Homo sapiens: one gene and its partners. The protein of the gene in region 3 interacts with the protein of the main gene of each other region in a biochemical or structural test. Each region holds a gene or a part of one and is shown on either strand. Other genes may lie near its edges. The genes, in order: ORC5, ORC3, MCM5, MCMBP and CDC5L.

The links.
Region 1: the proteins of MCM5 (region 3) and ORC5 form a complex in vitro, tested with the Homo sapiens proteins (one large-scale study listed by BioGRID and IntAct).
Region 2: the proteins of MCM5 (region 3) and ORC3 interact on a protein array, tested with the Homo sapiens proteins (one large-scale study listed by IntAct).
Region 4: the proteins of MCM5 (region 3) and MCMBP form a complex in vitro, tested with the Homo sapiens proteins (2 studies listed by BioGRID).
Region 5: the proteins of MCM5 (region 3) and CDC5L form a complex in vitro, tested with the Homo sapiens proteins (one large-scale study listed by BioGRID).

What each region holds. Positions count from the first base shown.
Region 1 is NC_000007.14:104,197,960-104,201,738, reverse strand, and holds part of ORC5 (origin recognition complex subunit 5), read left to right. Parts: intron 1-780; coding exon 781-981; intron 982-3,779. UniProt on the Homo sapiens protein: Component of the origin recognition complex (ORC) that binds origins of replication. DNA-binding is ATP-dependent. The specific DNA sequences that define origins of replication have not been identified yet.
Region 2 is NC_000006.12:87,665,423-87,668,110, reverse strand, and holds the end of ORC3 (origin recognition complex subunit 3), read right to left. Parts: intron 2,358-2,688; coding exon 2,278-2,357; intron 1,101-2,277; coding exon of another isoform or gene 1,094-1,100; coding exon 988-1,093; 3' UTR 660-987; downstream 1-659. UniProt on the Homo sapiens protein: Component of the origin recognition complex (ORC) that binds origins of replication. DNA-binding is ATP-dependent. The specific DNA sequences that define origins of replication have not been identified yet.
Region 3 is NC_000022.11:35,402,955-35,406,733, reverse strand, and holds part of MCM5 (DNA replication licensing factor MCM5), read right to left. Parts: intron 3,528-3,779; coding exon 3,401-3,527; intron 3,321-3,400; coding exon 3,192-3,320; intron 182-3,191; coding exon 9-181; intron 1-8. UniProt on the Homo sapiens protein: Acts as a component of the MCM2-7 complex (MCM complex) which is the replicative helicase essential for 'once per cell cycle' DNA replication initiation and elongation in eukaryotic cells.
Region 4 is NC_000010.11:119,831,857-119,835,087, forward strand, and holds part of MCMBP (mini-chromosome maintenance complex-binding protein), read right to left. Parts: intron 245-3,231; coding exon 156-244; intron 1-155. UniProt on the Homo sapiens protein: Associated component of the MCM complex that acts as a regulator of DNA replication.
Region 5 is NC_000006.12:44,429,088-44,432,866, reverse strand, and holds part of CDC5L (cell division cycle 5-like protein), read right to left. Parts: intron 3,155-3,779; coding exon 2,957-3,154; intron 1-2,956.

The DNA of each region.
Region 1 (3,779 bases), on a different chromosome or scaffold from region 3:
TTAGTAAACGTTTATTCAAGGATATTATATTAAAGTTATAAGTGTGAAATTCCTATTAAGATTTTTAACATTCAAATATGCTTAGATTTCTTTTCTTTTTTTTTTTTTTTTAATAGTGACAGGGTCTCGCTATGTTGCCCAGGCTGGTCTGGAACTCCTGACCCAAAGCCTTGGGATTACAGACATGATCCACCATGCCTGGCTGATTTCTTTATAAGAATTCTTTATAGGAAAATACAAATTTGCTTTGAATTTCCATAAGAAAGAAATGGCAAGCTGAAAGAAATAATTGAAGTGAGTTTAATGAAGGGACAGTTTTATAATGGAAATTTTATGGGAATCACTAAGGGATGATGGTACACCAGGGCCTTTACCACCTCCAGGCCTGAAGGGACCATAGAAAGGAGCTGTTATTGGAACCAAACAAGAGGTGTAGCCTTAGAAGAGGGGCTGTCCAACTTGATCTTTGGTAGAAGAGTATCCACTGCCAAGCTAGGGCCACTGAGGGGTCATGGTGGGAGTCAAGGAAATCAATATCCAAACTTCTCTCCCACCATTCTCCCTTAGTCTCCTGCTGGTTCTTTCCATTGGCTTCTCCATCCAGAGACAGAAAATAAGAGAGTCCAGGTGATGTAATTCTGTAGCTGTCAGGCTCTTGGGGCATGGGGTGGGTTTGGTGGGATATAGATTTAGAAAGGCAAATGGAGACTATCCAGCACAGCCATTATTGTGTTTGTGTGTTTTCTTCTTTACTTACAGTGTTTTGGTTTTCGTTTTCAGCTCCCACATGTGTTTGTGAATTGTGTTGAATGCTTTACATTGAGGCTGCTTTTGGAACAAATTTTAAACAAATTGAATCATCTTAGTTCTTCAGAGGATGGATGTTCTACTGAAATAACCTGTGAAACATTTAATGACTTTGTTCGCTTGTTTAAACAAGTAACCACAGCTGAAAATCTTAAAGATCAGACTGTATATATTGTAAGTAATTTCATTTGATTAGATCATCTCTTATCTTGAAAACTGATAATTTATTAGATCAATTTTCATATATTTGTTTTGAGTCTCATTATGTACAGTGCTCTGTGCCAGGTGCTTTTAGTATACAGAAATGTATTAAATATATTCCTTATCCAAGGGAAGCTTCATTTAATAGAAAAGGTATGACACATACATACGACTACATGCAGAATGTGATAAGTGATTGTCACCAGATGCAAAATATTGACTGTGTGTGTCCAATACAGCTTCATGAGGTATTAGCATTTGAGACAGACCTAAATGAATCAGAGTATTCTAGGAAGAAATTGAAGTAGAGGAATTTCAGATAGAATTATATAAGTAAAGGCATGCAGCTGAAAATGGAGGCCAGAGAGTACCAAATAGTCTAGTTTTAGTGGGTTATAAAGTATGACGGGAGAAAAAGAAGACTGGAAGATAGGTTGGGCAGATTGTGGAAGGTCTAGAAAACTATACTAAAGCACTTCATTTAATTTCTTAGGGAGTGGATAGGAGATAGTAAAGACTTTAGAGCAACAAATATGCCTGGTTACTCTGAAGACATGTTAAAATGATCATCTTTGGAATTGGATAAGAACTACCCAAGACTGGATAGTTTATAAAGGAAAGAGATTTAATTGACTTACAGTTCAGCGTGGCTGGGGAGGCCTCAGGAAACTTATAATCAGCAGAAGGCAAAGGGGAAGCAAGGCACCTGCTTCACAAAGTAGAAGGAAGGAGAAGCTCCTTATAAAATCGTCAGATCAGATGTGAGCTCACTATCACAAGAACAGCATGGGGGAACCACCCCCAAGATTCATTTACCTCCACCTGGTCTCTCCCTTGACACATGGAGATTATGGAGATTACAAGTTAAGATGAGATTTGGATGGGGACACAAAGCCTGACCACACCATTCCACACTTGGCCTCTCCCAAATCTCATGTCGGTTTCACATTTCAAAGTCAACTGTGGCTTCCCAATAGTCCCCCAAAGTCTTAACTCATTCCAGCTTAATTAGCCCAAAAGTCCAAGTCCAAAGTCTCATCTGAGATAAGGCAAGTCCCTTCCACCTATGAGCCTATAAAATCAAAAGTAAGTTAGTTACTTTCTAGATACAATGGAGATACAGGCAATGGGTAAATACAGCCTTTTCAAATGGGAGAAATTGGCCCAAACAAAGGGGCTGTAGGCCCCAAGAAAGTCTGCAATCCAATAAGGCAGTCATTAAACTTTAAAGTTCCAAAATGATCTCCTTTGACTCCATGCCTCACATCCAGCCCACTGATGCAAGAGTGGGCTCCCACAGCCTCATGCAGCTCGACCTCTGTGGCTCCATGCCTCACATCCAGCCCACTGATGCAAGAGTGGGCTCCCATGGCCTTGTGCAGCTCCACCTCTGTGGCTTTGCGGGGTACAGTTGCCCTCTCTGCTGTTTTCACAGGCTGGCGTTGAGTATCTGTGGCTTTTCCATGCACACAGTGCAAGCTGTTGAATCTGCCATTCTGGGGTCTGGAGGATGGTGGCCCTCTTCTCATAGCTCCACTAGGCAGTGCCCAGTGGGGACTCTGTAGGGGGGGTCCAACCCCACATTCCCCTTCTGTACTGCCCTAGTAGAGGTTCTCCATGAGGGCCCTGCACCTACAGCCAACTTCTGCCTGGACATCCAGGCATTTCTGTACATCCTCTGAAATCTAGGCAGAGGTTCCCAAACGTTAATTCTTGATTGCTGTGCACCTGCAGGCCCCACATGTAAGCCGCCAAGGCTTGGGGCTTGCACTCTCTGAAGCAACAGCCTGAGCTATACGCTGGCCCCTTTTAGCCATGAGTGGGGATGCAGGACACCAAGTTCCGAGACTGCACAAAGCAGCAAGGCCCTGGCCCACAAAACCATTTTTCCCTCTTAGGCCTCTGGGCCTGTAATGGGATGGGCTGCCACGTGAAGACCTTGGAGACATTTTCCCCGTTGTCTTGGCTGTTAACATTTGGCTCCTTGTTACTTATGCACATTTCTGCAGCTGGCTTGAATTTCTCCCCAGAAAATGGGTTTTTTCTTTTCTACCTCATGGTCTGGCCACAGATTTTCCAAAGTTTTATGCTCTGCTTCCCTTTTAAATGTAAGTTCCAGTTTTAGATAATCTCTTTGTGAATGCATATGACTGAATGCTTTCAGAATCAGCCAGGTCACCTGTTGAATGCTTTGCTGCTTAGAAATTTCTTCCACCAGATACCCTAAATCATCTTTCTCAAGTTCAAAGTTCCACAGATCTCTAGGGCAGGGGCAAAATGCCACCCTTCTCTTTGCTAGAGCATAGCAAGAGTCACTTTTATTCCCTGTCCCCAATTAGTTCCTCATGTCCATCTATGACCACCTCAGTCTGTACTTCATTGTCCATATCACTATCAACATTTTGGTCAAAGCCATCTAACAAGTCTCTAGGAAGTTGCAAACTTTCCCATTTCTTCCTGTCTTCTGAGCCCTCCATCCTGTTCCAACCTCTGCCTATTACTCAGTTGCTATAACAGACTACCAAGGACTGGGTAATTTATAAAGAAAAGACATTTATTTCTCACAGTTGTGGAGGTTAGGAAGTCAAAGGTTGAGGTCCCTGCATCTGGCAAGGGCTTTCTTGCTGCCTCCTCTCATGATGAAAGTAGAAGTACAAGAGAGGATGAGAGTGAGAGCAAGAGGTGGCAGAAGTCCCTTTTATAATAAAGCCATTCTCTCAATAACCCACTCCCTTGATAACAATATTAATTCATTCATGAGGACAGAGCCC
Region 2 (2,688 bases), on a different chromosome or scaffold from region 3:
CTTGCTGAGTTTCTGCCATAGAAGAGATCGAGATGTCATTTCATCTGGGCCTTACTTTGCTCATCTGAGTTGTATTTGTTTGGGATGTGATTTGTAGAGGCCTTACTGGCTCCATGACAGGTCATCCCGAAGTAGAATATTTACTGCCTAAATAAAGCCAAACAGTTTGGGACTTTTTTTTTTGACACGGAGTCTCACTCTGTCACCCAGGCTGGAGTGCAGTGGCCGATCTCAGTTCACTGCAACCTCCGCCTCCCGGGTTCGAGCAATTCCCCTGCCTCAGGCTCCCGAGTAGCTGGGACTACAGGCATGTGCCACCACACCTGGCTAATTTTTTGTATTTCTTAGGAGAGATGGGGTTTCACCTTGTTGGCCAGGATGGTCTCGATCTCCTGCCCTTGTGATCCACCCGCCTTGGCCTCTCAAAGTGCTGGGATTACAGGTGTGAGCCACCACGCCTGGCCTTTTTTTTTTTTCTTTAAAGTTGTAAGACTACAGGAAATGGAGAGGCAGAGACAGTTTTGGAACCTATGTAGTCACCAGGAGAAACAACCTGTAAGATATTCATGTTACTTACTGCCTACTACACTAAAGTGAGGAATGCCAATGCAGGGAATTGGGAGAGGAGGAATGAGGATTGCTAAAGCAACTGCAAATAATTTATACTCCTGGATAACGGAATTTATTACATTTACATACTCTAAGTTCAAGAATGATTTACTCACAATTTAGTAATGACTTTGGAAAGTACAGTAAAATGTGTGAGCAGTTTTAGTTACATTATTATTTGTTGGAGTCTAAAGTACTCCACAGGTGTTTTGATACATGCCTGTTTGGGGTTAGCAATGTACTTTTCTGGTTAAACATCAATGGGGGTTACACATTTATCTTCTCAACAAAACAGGCTCCTCTAATATATGTAAATATGACTGGTCACCTTTTTCTCTTAAGCTAAATGTGATAGTTCTGGCTTTGCTTATTTGCTTTCTAGCAGCCTCCCCATGTTAGTCTTGCCACATGGTCAGTCTTCTGTTTGGTAGGTTTTATAAATCCTAAAAGTTCTAGTTCAGAAACAGCTCTAATAAACCGAGCACTGGAGGCTTTAATTAAGGAAACTGGCCGTGCTGTATTTTTGACAAAAAGGGATTAAAATCTCAATGTTAAAATACTAGTTGGTAAAATGAAGTAGATAGTTCAGATATAAACTCCTAAATTAAACTATAACTGTTACTGGAAAACATTAATTAGAATCCACTATCAATAAAACATAAATGGAAAAGTACTTAATGCTTCCTAAATCTAATGTTCTACATAGTATGGAAATTGCTCCCCGCCCCCACTTCTAAACGTACATTAGAAAAATAGAGAATTCAGACCAGGTCAGTGGCTCACACCTGTAATCCCAGCACTTTGGGAGGCCGAGGCAGGCAGATCACCTAAGGTCAGGAGTTCAAGACCAGCCTGGCCAACATGGTGAAATCCCATCTCCCCTAAAAATACAAAAATTAGCCAGGCATGGTGGCAGGCGCCTGTAATCCCAGCTATTTGGGAAGCTGAGGCAGGAGAATCGCTTGAACCCGGGAGGTGGAGGTTGCGGTGAGCCGAGATCGTGCCACTGCACTCCAGCTTGGGCAACAATAGCAAAACTCTGTCTCAAAAAAAAAAAAAAAAAAAAGAATTAGGCCGGGTGAGGTGGCTCACACCTATAATCCTAGCACTTTGGGAGGCCAAGGCGGGCGGATCACAAGGTCAGGAGTTCGAGACCAGCCTGGCCAACATGGTGAAACCCCGTCTCTACTAAAAATACAAAAATTAGCTGGGCTTGGTGGCAGGCACCTGTAATCCCAGCTACTTGGGAGGCTGAGGCAGGAGAATTGCTTGAACCCAGGAGGCGGACGTTGCAGTCAGCCAAGATCGCACTACTGCACTCCAGCTTGGGCGATAGACGAGACTCCGTCTCAAAAACAAACAAACAAACAAAAAAAACAAAAACCAAAAAAAGAGAATTCAATAATGGCAGTTTCATTTTTGGTAAATTTTAAAATATAATCTTGATATAAATTTGATACCAAAAGTTTTAGGTTTGGTCTCATTTTGGATTAAATTCAAAATAAAGATTCAGAAATTTCAGTTATTCTAGCACCATATGGTTAATATTAACAAGTAATACGGTTGTTTGGAGTACGCCTTTATAAATATCTAGTGTAGACCTGGAGAAATTATAAACTTATATTTTATGTGTAGTTGGACATTGTAGAAATGGTTTTAAAAGGATACTGGATAATTTCATTCATTTCTTCTGAGGTTGCAGAATTTGCATCCATTTTTTCAGCAGCTGTCACAACTGTTGCAAAAGCCTTTTGAATAGACAAGACAGAAGAAAATAAAAATGTCTACAGTTGCCAAACATCTTTTACTATACTTCTTTTAATGGCTGTTGATAGCTGGCACATATTCTTCATTATATCAAATTTAAGATTGTCAAAACTACACTGATGATCACTTTAAACCACTTATATATTAAAAGATAAAGTAATGGTTCCTGAATAATCTTGTTTCAGAGAACTAAGAGTATGCAGAGAAAAGAAACGAAGCTAGTCAAAGGTAAAAGAACAAGAAAGCCCTGTTTCCTCTACTAATCTTACTCCAGGAAAATATCTATTTTTCTTGGAAGCAGCCAATTATGGA
Region 3 (3,779 bases):
AGACTCACGTGTTGCACTTCCTGGGCAGGGCATAGCCCTCGAGGCCAGGGCGCATGGCAATGTTGGTGAGGGTGTTGCGGCAGCTGCGGCACTGGATAGAGATGCGGGTGGCCTTGGCACGGACCGCAGAGGCCGCGATGATGATGCCAGGGATCTTCACCAGGTGTGACATCATGTCCGACTGTAATAGAGCCATCGGGAAGCTTGTTGGTTAAGGGGAGCCAGGACGCATCTGAGATATGCCAGTAAATATCCTGGGCAGGAGCCTGGAGGAGGTGGGCACAGAGCTGCAGGGAGGGCCACAGCTCTTCTGTTCCGCTCAAAAAATGCTTCCAGAGCATCCACCCAGTGCCAGGCTATCTGGACCCTGGGGTTCAGAGGAGCCTCAGGCACAGCTCCTGCTTTTAAAGACCTCGCAGCACAATTGGGGGGGGAGGTGGCAGGGCAAGAGATACACTAAGCACATTTCACTACAAAGTGGCAGGTGCCAGGAGAGAGACCTGACCCCAGCTCTGATGGCGACATCCTTGGACCTGTAGAGTACAACACAGAACAAACCTGGGAGGCAGGGGCCCACATTCTAGTTCAAGTTCTGTCAAAACCTGCTGTGTGGTCTTCTGTCTGGGTCACTTCTCTTTGAGCCTCAGTTTCCCCATCTTAATGACTATTCCCACACCGGACAATAAGGCAGTAATATTTTTTCTTTTTTCTTTTTTTTTTTTTGAGACAGAGTCTTGCTGTGTCGCCAAGGCTGGAGTGCAATGGCAGGATCTCGGCTTACTGCAACCTCCGCCTCCCGGGTTCAAGCGATTCTCCTGCCTCAGCCTCCCAAGTAGCTGGGATTACAGGTAACTGCCACCATGTCCAGCTAACTTTTTGTATTTTTAGTAGAGACGGGGTTTCACTATGTTGGCCAGGCTGGTCTCGAACTCTTGACCTCAGGCAATTCACTGGCCTCGGCCTCCCAAAATGCTGGGATTACAGGCATGAGCCACCGCGCCCGGCCGTAATGTTAATTTTTAAGTGTGATGTTATTGTAGCTATGCCTTTAAAAATGACTCTTCAAAGGCTGGGTGCAGTGGATCACGCCTGTAATACCGACACTTTGGAAGGCCGAGGCGGACGGATCACTTGAGATCGGGAGTTCGAGACCAGCCTGGCCAACATGGTGAATCCCCGTCTCTACTAAAAATACAAAAATTAGCCAGGTGTGATGGCATATGCCTGTAATCCCAGCTACTCGGGAGGCTGAGGCCGGAGAATTGCTTGAACCGGGGAAGCAGGGGTTACAGTGAGCTGAGATCATGCCACTGCACTCCATCCTGGGCGACAGAGTCAAACTCCGTCTCAAAAAAAAAGAGATTCATCTTTTAGAGATACATGGAGAAATAGTTCCAGATCAAATTATATGATGTATGGGACTTGTTTCAAAAGAACTCCAGGGCCACAGATGAAACAAGATTTGGCATCTATGGATCACCTGAGGTCAGGAGTTCGAGACCAGCCTGGCCAACATGGTGAAACCCCATCTCTACTAAAAATTAGCCGGGCGTGGTGGTGTGTGCCTGTAATTCCAACCACTTGGGGGGCTGAGGCAGGAGAATCACTTGAACCCATGAGGCGGAAGTTGCAGTGAGCTGAGATCGTGCCACTGCACTCCAGCCTGGGCAACAAGAGCAAAAACTCCATCTCAAAAAAAAAAAAAAAAAAAAATTGGCCTCTAGTTGCTAATTATTAAGCTGGGTGATGAGTACAAGAGGATTCGTTATACGATTCTCTTTATATTCTAATGTTTGAATTATCCATAATAAAAAGTAAAACATAAATTCTCAGCCGATCCACTCCTTCCTATGGCCAGCCCTTGCCCTTCACAAAGCTCCTGAGCCACTAGTGTACAGGACTGGGACAATCTCTCTCCACCTTGTCTCCGTTTCTCAATGCCCTCCTCCGGCTGAACGAGAGAACCAGACATGAGCAGAAGTTTTGCTGGGGCTCTCAAAGAAAGCAGGAAGAGGCTGTGGGAAGCAGAAGCGAGGCTGGGGAGGCGGAATTCAAGACTCCATGCCTGCATCATTACAATAAAGTGACCATCACCACCTCAACCTAGCACCTGGTCAGTCTCAGCATAGTGGATGGAGGGATGCAATGAGGGATCCAATACCACCCATAAGCGTTCTTGCCCGGTATGTGAAATCGAAACACAGTCAGGCCTTTGCATCTAACTTCCAGCTTCCAAAAATCACGGGGGGGAAGGGGTATGTTGTAACCACCCCAAGGAGGCCTTCAGATAAATCTAAAAGGCAGCACATTCTACAGGATAATGGCTCCTGCTTCTTTAGCAAATCAATAATGTATCTGTGAAAGAACTTACACCCAGAGTAAAGGAAGCTGTCCTGGATTAAAAGAGATTTAAACAACAATCCAGTACAATGCCTGGTCCTGGCTGAGACACACGAGCTGTAAGAGTCATGTGAGGTAATTTGGTCAATCTGAATCTAGACTGTATATTCAATGATACTAAGAGATCTTTGATGTTTCAGTTGAGGTGCTAATGAGACTATGTAAGAAAACTTTTTTTTTTCGGGATAAAGTGTCATGTCTGTAATTTATTTTTTATTTTTAGAGACAGGGTCTTGCTCTGTCACCCAGGCTAAAGTGCTGAGAGGCACAATCAGAGCTCACTGTAACCTCAAATTCCTAGGCCCCTTGATCCTCCCACTTCAGCCTTCCAAGTAGCCTGGACTATAGGCATATGCCAGCATACCTAGCTTTGTTTTTTTTGTTTTTTTTTTGTTTTGTTTTTTGGAGAGCCAGGGTCTCAAACTCCCGGTATCAAGCAATCTTCCTCCCTCGGCCTCCCAAAGTGCTAAGATTAGAGGCATGAGCCACTGTGCATGAATTTACTTTAAAATTCTTTAGCAAAAAAGAAAAAGGACAAAATAGGAAACAACACAAAATGTTAATTATTAAATCTGGGTGAAGCTTTATGGGATTCATTATACTACTCTCTGCTTTTGGGTGTGTAATTTTTCATAACAAAAAGCAAAAAACAACAAACGATCCTTTTGTCTCCAGGAGGAGACAGGTTCAGAAAGGTCAAGTGCCTCACTCAAGGCCACACAGCTAGCACTCAGGTCTGGCTGCATCCAAAGCCCTCTGCACCATGCAGCAGCCACTGCCCTCCGACCCACCTTCAGGCTACGAATGCTGGAAGGGCTGGCGTCCGACTTGAGCATGACCTGGATGTCCTGGAGCACCTCCTCCCCAGAAGGCCGGGGCCGGGTCACCTCATCAGCTACCTCCTTGGCAGCTTCCTCCAGCTGGAGAAAGGGAAGGGCACAGGCTATTAGTAACTGGGGCAGAGCAGCCCTGGGAAGCTCAGGGATGGGGTCCCACTCACCAGCTGCAGGTGCTCGGCTGGCTGCTTGTACAAGTAGTCGGCCAGGTCCTCATCAAAGCTGGCCAGATCCTCCATCTCCACCTCAATCCAGTACTCCCCCAGGTTGTAATGCCGCTTGAGTTCATCCCTGGAGTGGGCACATAGCAGGGTGGGGCAGGAAGGGTGCAAAGAAGAGGAAACCAACACTGGCTGAGGTGTGCCTGCACCCCTGAATCTGCCCACACCACAGCCACCATGACCTCACCATTCCTCTTCCCAAACACACATCTAATTCCAGATCATTCCATTATTTAACCCTGCAGAGGCTACTCACTGCTGGCACAGGCATGCCCTAAAGAAAGCTCCATGGAAGGGGTCCACAAGACAGTCAAAGGATGTT
Region 4 (3,231 bases), on a different chromosome or scaffold from region 3:
AACTCGATTCCCCCTCAATGAGCCCTTTCATACAGCGTTTTTAAAAGGAAAAGTTCATTTCCGTTTTTAGAATTCTGCCTCAGTTACTGCTGAATAACTCAGAAGACATATACACAAGCTTACCGAAACAGCAATAATGGACGTGCGCCACTTACCGAGCCACCACGAGCAGCTGGTGAAGATCATCAGCAGTGATGCTCTGAGGGTCGTTCTTCCGCATTTCCACAAAGTCATCTTCAACTGCCTTTATCAAAAGAGTAAATGTAAATGATGTGCATTTTTGTAAGGAAAAGAAAATTAACATGGTTCCTTGACTGATGTAGTAAGGTGCATGTCAGCCTCTTAGACAAAGGAGGCAATATGGGTGAAAGTACCAAAGCATATACATACATAATGCTGCTGATGAAAATAAAATAATGAAACTCAGATTCATTTAAGGTCAAGCAAACATATAAATCAGCAACTGGCATAGGAAACAATGCTTTTCCACAAAGGAAGAGTGATGTTAGTGAAAATGGCAGAGAAGGGACCGCAGAAAACTGTCTCTACTGTTAACACTGATCAAAATCAGCTTTTTAAAAACTAGAAATAAAACCATACTTGCAGCAATCCAGAGAGCATTTATGCAAGAAAACCAGGTGATTATTGGTAAGAATGTTGAGCCTGGCAGCATTTTAACATGTCCTACTCCTAAATTCCAACCCCTTCCCCTCCAGGCGATAATTAGTAGCTTCAAAAATCAACAGCCTGGCAGCCACCGGAGAGAGAACAGGGCTAGGGCTCCTTCCAAGTGCCATTCCCGGAGAACTGTCATCTGACCACCTGTCTGGTGGCTCCCTGGAAGGACCCATTTGCAAGGTTGTCTTTATTTAACCTGACTGGAAGCCTGTCTACTATGAACCACCTCTTTCCCCAGGGCATTTATCAAAAACAATCGGAAGAAATTACCAATCACCTTAGCTACCTGAGACACTGGGTAACAGCTGCGGCAGACAGACTAACCCAAACCCTTCAATGGAAAAGCTAGCTGGGAAATGACATGTCTGTAGAGGGCTCTGAAAACCTTAAGTATGTAACTCCTAGGAACTCAGAAGGCTGCAGACATGCTCAGAGACCATAGCTCCCACCTCTGCATGACCTGGAGGCTCTGTGCGAGCAGGAAATGAAGGCTAAGGCTTGTAAATTGCATGGCTAAGTGTTGAACTGAGGGCTTGCCCCAACTTTTATTTTTATTTATGATTATTATTCACCCGTAGACTGGGAGACTACTACCCAGCATTTAAGGAAATTTCTTTCCAATCATTAACCACAAAACTAACAGAGCAGAGACTTCAGTGCCCACATGTGACAAAGATACAGACTTTATAGAATTAGTCAAAAAAGTTACTAAACAACCTACCAACAGTAACAAACAGCAACAACAATAAACCCTAGGGAGGTTTAATTTCCAGAGTAACTTCCAAAGCAGAGTTGCCATATTATATAATTTAAAATGTCTGGTTGTGGCTAGATGTGGTGGCTTACACCTGTAATCCCAACACATTGGGAGGCCAAGGTGGGAGGACTACTTGAAGCCAGGAGTTGACCAGCCTAGGCAATAAAGCAAGACCTCATCACTACAAAAAAAAAAAGAAAGAAAAAAAAAGAAAAGAAAAAACAAAAAAACAAAACTTTAGTTGGGCATGGTGGTGCACACCTATGGTCCCAGCTACTGAGGCAAGAGGATCACTTGAGCCCAGCAGTTTAAGGCTGCAGTGAGCTGTGGCTGTGCTACTTACTATTCCAGCCTGGGTGATACAGTGAGACCCCACTGACCAAATAAAATGTCTGGTTTTCAACAAAAAAGTACAAAGAAACCAGAAGGTATGGCTCACACTTTGGGGATAAGGGAGTCAGTAGAAAACTGTCCCAGAGGAAACTCAAACATTAGACAAAAAGACTCTAAATTGGCTATTTTAAACATTCAAAGAAATAAAGGAAACCACATAAAAAGAACTTCAGGAAAATATGAGAATCACCAAATAGAGAGTATCAATAAAAAGAGAGAAATAATTTTTTAGAAGAAGGAAATAAAAATTCTGGAGTTGAAAAATATAGTAAAAATTCTCTAGAGGTGCTCAGATTTGATCAGGCAGAAGAAAATCACTAAATTTGAAGATAAGTTCACTGAGATTAGTCTAAGAAACAGAACAAAAAAAGAAGAATGAGGGAAAATGAACAGAGCCTTGAAGACCTGTGGGATACCATTAAATGCAACATCAGATACACAGTGGTAGTGTCAGAAGGAGAGCAGAGAGAAATGAGGCAGAAAGAAACATGGCCAAAACCTTCCCAAACTTGTTGAAAACTTCCCCAAAATATGAATTATTCTGCACCTCCAAGAAGCTCAACAAACTCCATGTAGGATAAACTCAGAGATCCACACATAGACACATCATAATCGAAACTGTCAAAAGCCACAAAATCTTGAAAGCAGTGACAGAAAAATGACTCAGTGTGTACAAAGGATCCTTATCAGAAACTAGTTGGCTTCTCAGTAGAAACCAGAGGCCAGAAAGTGGTGGGAGGACATATTCGAAATGATGAGACAAAGACTATAAACCAAGAATTCTACATCCAGCAAAACTAGCCTTAAGGAGAAATTAAGACATTCCCAGATAAACAAAAACTTAAAAGAGGGCTGGGCGAGGTAGCTCACACCTCTAATTCCAGAATTTCGGGAGGCTAAGGAGAGAGGATCACTTGAACCCAGGAGTTCGAGACTAGCCTGGGCAACATAAAGAGATCCCCTATCTGCACACACACAAACACACACACACACCCAAACAAAACAAAAAAACCCAAAAAACAAAGAATTAGCTGGGCACAGTGGCACATGCCTGTGGTCCCAACTACTCAGGAGGCTGAAGTGGGAGGATCGCTTGAACCTGGGGGGGTTGAGGCTGCAGTGAGCCATGATCACAACACTGCACTCTAGCCTGGATGACACAGCGAGACCCTGTCTCAAAAAAAAAAAAAAAAAAAAAAAAGAATTTGCACAAGTAGACCTGCCATGCAAGAAACACTAAAGACAGTTCTTCAGGCTGAAATGAAAAGATACTAGACAGTAACATGAACCCACATGAGGAAATAAAGGGTGCTGGTAAAAGTGATTGCATAGGCAAATAGAAAAAATAGTACAGAAGTCTTTTCCATTTCTAACTTTTTTCTCTAAAAGACAACTGCAAAAGC
Region 5 (3,779 bases), on a different chromosome or scaffold from region 3:
GCTGTGTTTGCTCTTGCTGTCTTATTTTACACACAAAAGTCTGGCAAGGTTCTAAACTCAATTCTGCCTCCAAAGCAGAATAAAATACATGGACTTGGTTACAATTCAGAAGTCTTTTCCACTTATTTCTGACCTGTAACTGCATTCTGATTCTATTTATTTAACAAACTCCTTGCACACACACATCCTCTACCACATTCTACATAAAATCTGAGATGGTTCTATTAGTTTTAAATGAGTATCTTAAGGATTTTCACTTAAGTGCTAAGTTTCAAATATTAATCATGAGTAATGAATGGCTCAAAGACTACCTCCAATATAAACCTCAGGGCATTTTTTTTTTTTAATCCATTCAGGAGACACCAGCCACGACAAAGCTGGACTTCATCTTGCTTGATAGGCAGTGATAGGGCCATAATTTAGATTCACGGTTCCAAAGTTCATGGCAGCAAAAATCAAACACACTGGCAGCCATGGCATACAGTGCTTACAGAGAAGGGCTTATCTCCTGAACCTAAGAGTGGAAAGGATAATTTAAGTATAGCATTTAGTTTATACAATATAACTGGAGTTCCTTCCCCACAACAAACTTTGAATAATGTTTATAATTTAGCAATCAACTGAAATGAAAGAATTACCACAATTGAAATAAAATATTTATGTATTTCAAACCAATAGAACTGTGTCTTCAAAAACTAAAACAAGCTAAAAGAAACCTAGTTCTGAATTAGTGATGGATACAAATAAAATGGGGGTTTGTTTATTCAAGTCTTTGAGCTGCTTTTCTTTTTTTAAAAGATTTCATGAACTTTCATTTGAAATAAGCACAGTTTACCAAATTAAAGGACTTGATTAAGTATTCTTTAAAAGTAACTAGCTGGGTAAACAATAAAGTAAGTTATCCAAGAGTCAAGAAAAGAAAAATGACTTCAGACTGCTTTATGAATATTCTCCAAAATCACCAATCCTTCAACAAAAATAGTTCAACGGAAGATTTCAGTTCCTGGTACTGAACTGAACAAAGAGAACCACATGTTTTTAATGGTTGCTCATAAACGACCCAAATAAATCTCCAAAAGAACAGGAGTGGCTCTTTCTGTATTTTTCCCTTTAAAATTCATAAGACCAATTCAACACAGAAATAAAAATTACTGTACTTTATGGCACCACTCACTGTGTGACACATTTATTTGCTGTCATGAAAGTTAGTACCTCAACAAAGTAAATGAGATTTAGGGAGAAAAAAATTTTCTACCATTTAAAAAAGCACAAAATGTTCTTGCCATTTGCGGCAAAAAGAGTTTACCCACCTCAAATGAGAAGATTTTCATACTAAGTAAGAAACCTAAGTATTTATATATAAATAATACAAAGAAGCTTTCCAAATAGCTTTTCAATCAGTGATGATGCTGATATTAGATCACAATTACACTGCTAACTACCATTTATAAGAAATGAAGCCTACACAACAAAAAAATGTAACTTACAATTTAACCACTGATGTTCTATTTTCCCTGGCTTTAACACTGAACCACAACACAGAGCAACAGCACACCCTGCTGGAAGTTGGTAATACAAATAATTAGCAGCACTGAACTAAGATTTTACCCAAGATGAGAATTACTTCAGAACCAGTCATTTCTCACTGAGAAAAAAAGAGGTTCACAGGCATTAACCATCAGCTACCTATATATATGTGATCTTAATGGTTAAATTAAAACTCAGAATAACTCAAATTAAAAGATACTGCTTTTTCCTGCTCATTTCCTCAGCCCCATACAGCCCCAACCACCCCAAGTGATTTTACTACTTCTGGCTTTAACCCTAAATAAAAATATTTTCAAATGCACTTTTTGTAAAGAGAAACTGGTAATCACATAAAAGAGGAAACCAAGACGATTTTCTGTATATGACTGCCTGAAGTACCCCTTCTCTCCCATCCCACCTTGGCCTTAGAAATGCCCCTAAAGATTACCATTAAAAATGCACAAGGCATAGCCGGGCATGGTGGCTCACGCCTGTAATCCCAGCACTTTGGGAGGCTGAGATGGGTGGATCACGAGGTCAAGAGATCAAGACCATCCTGGCCAACATGGTGAAACTCTGTCTCTACTAAAAATACAAAAATTAACTGGGCGTGGTGGGGCGTGCCTGTAGTCCCAGCTACTAGGGAGGCTGAGGCAGGAGAATCGCTTGAAACCAGGAGGTAGAGGTTGGAGTGAGCCAAGATTGCACCACTGCACTGCAGCCTGGCAACAGACTGAGACTAGGTCTCAAAAAAAAAAAAAAAGAATGCACAAGGCAGCCTGGTGGTCTGTGAACCACAATTTACATGCCATTGGCAAAATGCCTACACAGATTCTGGAATTCAAAATATGCAAACTATATTAAGAAACCACATGTCCTGAAACTGCATCTAGTATGTTTTCAACATTTTCACAGACATGAAAAATCATGGAAGCCACTAACTAGATAATCCAGCTCTGCCCTCCCTAACTCAAACTCACAGTAATCCAAGGATGAACAGAATTGTATTTAAGTTTTGTAAATGTACTCTCTTTGTTATAAAAAGAAAACTCCTCGTTACTGCTGAGATTCCTCTTCAGAGAAAACAGGCTATGCTAGCAATGACCTGCCTGTTCTGAGTGACTAGTATTGGCTTCTTGGCTCCTTGCTCCCACATCTAAAGGTTCTGATTGACCTCTGGTCAACTTGCAGGGCACTCTTTAGTCATGAAGGCCAACAATTCTTTAAAAAAAAAACAAAAACAAAACAAACAAAAAAAAACAATGAACAAGGCCAAGAAGATCCAACACTTAAGTGTAGTTTTCTCCAACAACTAAAAAGGCAATAAGCACCTCAGGTGTGTTTTTCTGACATTGTCTCCAGTGGCATTATTTAGTTCATTATCTCAATCAAAGTACATTTAAAATTAAAATTTTAAAAGGATACCAACCTCGAGCCTCTTTTCAAGTGATTCAATTCTGTCCTTTTTACTAGCCAGATTGGCCCGTGTGTAGCGGCTCTGCCCAGGAAGATATAAAACTTGACTGTAGCATTCTTCCCACACCTGGTTATAAGCTTCACTTGAGAGCTCTCCATGGCTCATTCCTTGTTTAACCACTTCCATCTCCTGCACCAAAACATCCTGGGCCTGTTTACAATAATAATTTCAATAAGTTTAAGTACTACAAACACTTGCCATATCCAGAGAGCTTTAGAAGACTAATTTTTTCCCTCATGCCTTGAGTCAAATCCAAGATGTGGTTGGTTGTTTTTTGGAAGGGTGGATAACAATACCTAGGAAAAATAGCTTAAGAAGCCTTTGAGTCAATGCAGACTGCTTTTTAAAAATCAAGCATCCATGTTTCCTCAAAAGTATAAACATCCTTTGCTTTCACTCACTATAACAGCAGCTATCATTTCTCAGGTACCTATTGTGTGTGTGAGAAACTAGGTTTAAAAGTTTTACCTACATTATATCCAAAGATCATAATCACCTTACAAATTAGCCAATATTAACCTCATTTAAAAGCTAATGAAATTTGGCCAGGCACGGTGGCTCCCTCCTATGATCCCAGCACTTCGGGAGGCTGAGGTGGGCGGATAACGAGGCCAGGAGTTCAAGACTAGCCTGGTTAACACAGCAAAACCTCGTGTCTACTAAAAATGTAAAAATTAGTAGGACGTAGTGGCACATGCCTGTAATCCTAGCTACTCAGGAGGCTGAGGCACAAGAATCCCTTGAACCCAGGAGGTGGAGGCTGCAGTGAGCTGGG